Homo sapiens: one gene and its partner. The protein of the gene in region 1 purifies or fractionates together with the protein of each later gene. This does not show direct contact. Each region holds a gene or a part of one and is shown in the gene's direction. Other genes may lie near its edges. The genes, in order: GAB3 and MIPEP.

What was found.
Region 2: the proteins of GAB3 (region 1) and MIPEP purify together in Homo sapiens (affinity purification with mass spectrometry; one large-scale study listed by BioGRID and IntAct). This does not show direct contact.

What each region holds. Positions count from the first base shown.
Region 1 is NC_000023.11:154,716,294-154,720,115, reverse strand, and holds part of GAB3 (GRB2-associated-binding protein 3), read left to right. Parts: intron 1-3,786; coding exon 3,787-3,822.
Region 2 is NC_000013.11:23,840,734-23,844,555, reverse strand, and holds part of MIPEP (mitochondrial intermediate peptidase), read left to right. Parts: intron 1-3,067; coding exon 3,068-3,221; intron 3,222-3,822. UniProt on the Homo sapiens protein: Cleaves proteins, imported into the mitochondrion, to their mature size.

The sequences.
Region 1 (3,822 bases):
GTGTATCTAAACATAGAAAAGGTACAATAAAAATATGGTATTAAATCTTTTGGGATTCAGATGTCTCGGAGGATTGAAAAAAAATCTTATAGGACCACCATTGTATATTTGGTTCATTGTTACTATTATGTCATGCAGCATATGACTATTTATGAAAGCAAAAATTCTTTCATATATGGCCAGTGGTAGCCTCTTCAGGTTAGCCCCTAAGTCCTTTTGACATGGCCCTCGTCATTCCTTGTGGCATTGTTTCACTGTAAAAAGCTTCACTTTAGTGCTGGCAGACTGACTGCTTTCAGGGGCTTTGTCACATGTCTTCCATTTTCCAGAAGCCTGTAAGCCTGGTGGAACAGAACTATATGTGGCCTCTGGTTTTACCTACTTAGCAAAGAGCTCCAAGAACACCTCACTTCTGTTTTTGCATAATCAAAACTCTTATGTAGAGATTTAAAAACCTAAGGGATGACACACTGGCGATTTTGCATGATTCAGCATCAAGACTATGCTACGTCCTATTTAAGTTACTGTGTGACTGTTCTTTTTCCTTTCCACCCTCATGCCTGCCTTCCAGCCCTGCTGAACTACTTACGCAAAGTTTTGAGCCTTTCCACCTTAATGCCTTTGTGCACGCTGCTTCCTCCTGCCCCACTTTAGCCTTAGCTTAGTCACCACTTCTTCCTGGAAGCCTCCCCAGACAACTGATCTGAGAGAGATGTCTCTTTTGTTTGTTCCCATAGCATCTTGGTTTTGCCTTATCGTAGCACTTATCTCACTGATTGCAATCGTCTGTTTATCCATCTGCTCACTCCCTTGTTGCCCATGAGACTGTGAGTGGCAGGGCATGTGGCTTGCTCACTTCATCTTCCCCAGTATCTGCACAGTGTCCAGCATATTAGTGGGCTATCAACAGGTAATTGTTGAATGAATGGATAAAGCCCAAACTTCTTCATGTCACTCTTCCCATTGCACTCCCACCACTCCTGGTTCATTCTTCTGCTAGACCGCTCACTACGCTGAGTTGAAATCTACCCATATCATAATTCTACCCTTCTCCCTATCCCAGCTAGAGAGTGAGGTCTTTTAGGGACCAGCTCTAATCCCCTTTTCTAGCTTCATTGTCTAGCAGGATGCACAGTGCAGAGTAGGCACTCAAATAAACTCTTGGTGTTACTTCTCTTCCAATATTGTTATTAAAAGATAAGAAATCTATTGTCTCCATAACACTAAGAGCGGTTAATGTGAAACTTGTTTCTGTGCTTAGTTTGACTTCCTCTTTTAGAATCATTTTTGGGAAGTGCAACAAAGTTCCTCTTTACATTTCCCCCACCAAAGTGGCTTTTGGAAAGTTTGGAGCACCCCATGCTCCCTCCCCATGAAAGCTTTCCTCAGCAGGCACAAATGGCATTCTCTCATCCCCTGAGCCCCTTCCCTGGACTAGGCCTTATGTTCCTGTTTGCCTCAGTTGATGCCAGAAGCCCAGGTTTCCCACTTTCAAACCCCACAGCAAAACTTGAGCTCCTTCTCTTATGTTTAGTGGCTCTACTCCCATCCAGTGCCACGTTTTTGCAACAGGAATTTACTGAATCAATTTTTCTCTCCCTCTTGGGTCACCCCCACGAGCATACAAACATGCTGTTATTTTTCCTGTCTTAAAAACATGGACTTAATCACACCACGTTGTTTGTCTCCTGAGATGGTCTCCTTGTTTGACTCATGGCCAGACCTCTTTTCAAAGCTTTATACTGTCTGTAAAGGCAGGAGCAAACCAGGGTTCACCTGCCCCAACCTGACATGGAGTGACTGCCTTCCTTCTGCTTGCTGCCCCTTGCCTCAGTCCTGGAAGGGCTTTTTATTCTAAGGCATAATTGGAGGTCAGTGCTTCTTTGGATTCTCTGCCATCTCAGATTCATGTTCTCTGAGCAGGGAGGGAGCTGAGAATACTCCAAATAGTGTCTTTTCCTTTTTCCCTGGCCTCTTGGTCAAAGCTGGTGGGCTTAAAAAGTATCACACATAAATGAAGCTAGAGATACAAAAGACTTCCTGTCCCAGGGGTCGCTGTACCTCCTGGCAGAACCCCACACTTCCTGCTGTCACACATGCTACCGCATGGGAGAGAAAAACCACAGAGCTATAAATCTCCCTGCGGTCAGCCGTCATCCTTCTCTGTGCTCAATTCCCAACTGGGGCTAATGCCATAGTTCCCTACCGCAGAAAGTAAGGATACGCTATCCATGCAGGCTGGCCTATCTGGCCCTTCGATGAACAAAGGGCACCTAAATGTAAGACAAGGAACTCAAACATTTCCTTCCCCCTGGCTCCATGAGAGGGCAGGGAGGTTTACAGATCCAGGGGACTCCCTAGGGCTTTGGTCAATTGTAAATACCTCTTTCCCCAGGCCAGAGATCTGCACCCTTTCTTTGTACTGAGCCAAGATGGTACTGTCTACATCAAAAATTCTAAGTCAATGGTGAGTGGGAAGCCAAGGAGCCCTAGGTCATTCTCAGTTGTTCTCAGGGCACAAAAAGAGACCTGTCAAATCTTGGCACTGGTTTCTGTGGAATATCATTCTCTTTTCTTTTCTGAGCATGGACTGAGCTTTACCTGTTCATCTGACTTCCAGGCTTGGCTCTTTCCAAGATTCCTATTCCATTAAGGAAAATTCCTTTTTGTTTTTACAGTGTTTCAAAACAGGGGCACTGATAGCTTTAGGCCAATCCTGCCATGCCCCACCCCCCACTCCATCTCCAGCCTTTATAACAAGCAAAACCCACATATTTTCAGATGCTCCCGAGAGGAATTATACCATCCCTGGTTGAAAAACACTGTGACTTAGGGGGTGAATGCTTAAGAGTCTCCCATCTTTAAAAAATCCCTTGACCCCAGAGCTTTCCCCCTTTACAGTCAGATGTTTCTGGAGAGCTGGCTACACTTCCTCTCTCTCTTTATTTTTTAACTTCACATCCATTACCGATCCTTCCATCCCAACCTGAGTTCAAATTCATTCCTACAGTTGTTTAGCTATGTGACCTTGAGCACATTACTTAATCTCTCTGAACCTCAATTTTATCAGACATAAGATGGAGATAGTAATAGTTACCCCTCCCATAGTATAGTTTTAGGGATTAAATGGGTTACAGTAAAGCGCTTAGACAAGGGTCTCTTACATAGGAAGTGTAACTAGCCAAGCTAGTTAATTCTCTGAGAATTCTATTAGTGTTTTAATCATCATTGGGGGTTTTATGGAAGACAATTTGTCACCTTCAGACACTGGCAATCTTCTCTCCTCCTCTCCAATGTGTATGATTTTCCTTCTTGGCCAGTTGTGTAGAACTTAAATAGCAATGTTGGAAGATACTGGGGCAGTGGTGAGCATTTGTGATTTTCATCTGATTTTAATGTATGATATTGGCTCTTGAACTGAGATACATAATAGTAAGAAAGCTTCCTTCTAGTTCTTTATTGCTAAGATTCTTTTAAAGCTTCAGCATATGTTAAATTTGTACTACATTCCTTTGCTGCATCAATTTCAATGATTGTATAATTCTGGCCCTTCAAACTGTGGGTGTGAATCCCATTACTAGACTCTCCAATCCTGACCCGTCCTTAAAATCATCCAATAAAGCGGACTTGAAGATGGGCACTAGTCCTGTAATACAAAGCGTTTCATCATTAGAATGGCTGATTTGTTTCCTTCCTGCTGTCCTTGTCATGACATGGGTTCTTGGCATAGCCTGAGAAACAAGAGAAATTGGTCCAGTAACTCCTTATTGAATTGCCTTTCTGCAGGCCTGGCGCAAGCGCTGGTTTGTCCTCCGGCGAGGC
Region 2 (3,822 bases), on another chromosome or scaffold:
AAACTTTCTTGCCTTGGTAGTAGGTTCTATGGGAGGTTTCTGCTCTGGTAAGCTGTGATTCTCTATGGCTGCCTGCCTTTCTTTCCAGTTTTGGGGGCAGCAGTTTGCTCTGTGGCCTTGATTCTCTGCTGAATCTAAGAAGATTCTTGATTTTCAGCTTGTTCAGCTTCCTGCTTGTTAGGATGGAGTGGTGACTTTCAACCTCCTCATGTGCAGGAGTGGAAACCTCAAGCCTGGACCACTTCCTTTTATAGTTTATTTTCTCCCCTCTTTCCATGCACTCCTTTCTCTCAGTTCTTCAGTACCTCTGAACTGTTCTGTGTCTTCCTTCCCACCCCTCCCTCTGGTAGTTCAGGGGTCTGCCCTTTACCTTCTCTGCCCGCATCGCCCTTCCCTAATGGCCCTGTCTCCCTCTATGGCTCTAATATCTGTACAGTGAAGTCTCCTTGTTCTCCTTAGCTTTGGGTCCTGAGTGTCTGGTATCTCATGGGCACTTCACAGTCGGTTCCTCCAAAATGGAGTTTATTTTCTGTGAGCCCTCCATCCTCCTCCCATCATTGCACCTCACCCTCCTCTCTTCTCCCACAAACACACCCAGATTCCCCTCTTCCTTTTTTGTGTTCATTGTGCCGGCTGATTCAGTGACTCTACCATCCACTTATTTGTCCAAGCCAGAAACCTGAGTGTTATTCTAGATTGTTCTGTCTTTCTCATCACCCTCCAAATCCAATCACTCACACAGTCCTGAGACGTTTGCATCTCAAAGGAAAAACACATTCATCCCTGACCCCACTGCCCTCTGTCAGAGTTCACCCTCTGAAGCCTGGAAGTCTGTCCTCCTGTCAGCCCTCCCTGCCTCCTGCATTCCACCCTCCATGCTGTCCACTGTGCAGCATTCCAGAAAACATCAGATGCTCCCCTATGGCCTACAGAAGCTGTCTCCCAAATGGCATCTGTAAGCAATTCATTGAGAGTGTAGTCATAAAATATTAGAAATTCTATGTATATTTATTTTTCTTTATCTCAACTTATAAAAATGTCTGCTTTTCTTTTTGCAATGTGATAAAACAATACCACATGCATATACTTTATGAGTGTACTAATAGAAGGTTGAATACTCAAAAGTTATTTTAGTGTGCATTGGTGAGGAAGCTTAGAGGCCATGGCCTATGGTGCATGGTCCCAGTTCCTCAGCTTAGTGGACCAGGCCCTCTGTTTTCTGGCCCCTGCCTGCCTTTTCCAGACTCCGCTCCCATTCTTTCTACATTTATCCCTGCATTGGTAACTGCTTCATCTTTAACCACATCCTTTCTAGAAGTTACCAGGCTATTTTATGCCATCATACTTTAGTTATACTGTCGCTTCTGCCTAGAATTCCTATTATGATTCCCATTTTCCATTCCTCATCCCAGCCCTGCCTTGCAAAGTCTGATTCCTTTTTTTTTTTTTTTTTTTTTTGAGATGGAGAGTCTTGCTCTGTCGCCCAGGCTGGAGTGCAGTGGCACAATCGTGGCTCACTCAACCTCCGCCTCCTGGGTTCAAGCAATTCTCTGCCTCAGCCTCCCGAGTAGCTGGGATTACAGGCACCCGCCACCACACCCGGCTAATTTTTGTACTTTTAGTAGAGACGGGGTTTCACCATGTTGGCCAAACTGGTCTTGAACTCCTGACCTCATGATCCACCCACCTCAGCCTCCCAAAGTGCTGGGATTATAGGCGTGAGCCACAGCACCCGGCCGATTCTTTCTTGATTCCTATCCGAGAAGCTTTCCCTGGTGCTACTCTGCACTCCACAAGTAAAGTCATCATGCTCTCCTTTGCCCTCCCATTTTGCAGTGCTCATTCGTTCATGCTTCAGCACTGTCTGTTGAGCGCCAGCCGTGTGCCCACTGCACCAGGCCCAGGACACAGTGTAGTTGGTTCACTTCTCTGCCTCTTTCAGTGCCAGCTGCTTAGACACAAAGGCTCTTCATTCTTCTCTTCCAGCACCCCGCAGGTTTGCTGACAGCATGCTTGAGTGAACGAACCAGGGAGCGAGGGCACTGGATCATGAACGTCTCTTTCAACACTAGGATTCTGTTTAAAGAAAAATCAGTCAGAAATTAAGGTGTAAATTTGTGGATGTCCATAGCCAAAGTCTCATTTGTTGTGCAATTTATGTTCACTTACTAAACTCATTCATTTATTAGTAACTATGTTTTTATATTTTTATATATAAATTTGTTGTGGGGACTCATTTTATGGAACGAAGTGTTGTGCAGTTCTAGAATCACAAATAAAGCCAATTGAAAAAAAAATGTGTATTTTGGTAATCCTAAAAAGTAGACATATAATGAGAACCTACAATATTCTAGAGCCATTATTTTTGGCTATGGCTATATATTTTGGCTTGACTTAATGATTCAAATGTAAACATTCAAATCACGTATTTTGGATTTGCTTTGGTTTATATTGGAATATATAGAACAGAAAAAGTTATTTTTGGGTGAAGAATAATTCACCTTACTAGTTACGTTGTCTTTAATTTAAGATATCTAACTATAAAACAGATAAGATCTGATTATTTATATTGCAGGCATTTTTTTCATAAATGAATATTTTACTGGATGAGAACTTTAAATTCACTTAATGTGCCTCAGGATTTTTATTCATTTAATATTTATGTATATAGGTCACAAGTTTCTAGAATATAATTCATAAGGTAAGAGTTACCATTATAACTGAAACTGATCATATTTTGCATGTAAGTATGTATAAGGAATGTATACAGTGAGCAGTTGAGACTGCTTAATTGGGTTAGTGAAAGAGTAAATAACAGGGAAGGGACAAAGGTTAGGGAATGATATATCTACCTTAATTACTGACTTATAACTAACACTAGTAATAATCAGACTGTCATTCTGAAGAAAACTGTCTGAAAACCCCTCAAATGATATAAATACACTTTTATGTTTTGAATCCTTCTTTAGCTCCAGTGATCTTAAGTATTAAATGAAAAGTTAATTGAATTTACCTTCAGAAATTGAAATAAACAAAGATGCTGTTGAACCTCTCTTCCTTCTCTTAGGTATAATATTGAGCCCAGCCTATATTGCCCGTTTTTCTCTCTTGGAGCATGCATGGAAGGCCTGAATATTTTGCTTAACAGACTGTTGGGGATTTCATTATATGCAGAGCAGCCTGCAAAAGGAGAGGTGTGGAGCGAAGATGTCCGAAAACTGGTGAGCTCCTCCTGCTCAGCCTGCAGTTGCAGGCATTTACCTTTCGGTTGGGCAGTTGAGTCAACAGCAGTTTCAGGTTTACATCAACTTTGCCCTGACTGAGTGTGTCCCCTGCCTTATTTCTGCTTCACAAAAAAAATCCAAATTGCACTTCTGATTTAAGACACTGTATAAAGGATCCAAACATAAAACAGCAGAGTTTTCTAAAAAAGTTTTTTGGAACTTGATAGAAGGTTGAATATATATGCACCTTCATATATCCACAAATTCTATTTATAGGAAAATTGTCCTTTACTTTGTATATACCTTCATAGCTGTGTGTCCGTTTTGGTTAATTCCCAAATCCATTGGATAAGTGACCTTTTTTCTCTCCAACCCCCATCCCATGTTGTAGGGGCTTATATTTGCATCAGATATTAATTTACGTCCGTGTTCTGATTTATTTAACTTCTTTGATAATAACTTCAAACCTAGCAATCATCTTTCTCCTGTGAAGGCCCACTTTATATGAGGCATGAATATTTTAAATTTTTCCTCATAGGATTTGAGGCTTTGTTGACCTGTGTGTGTCACTAAGGCTTTGTATTGTTTTGTTGTTTGA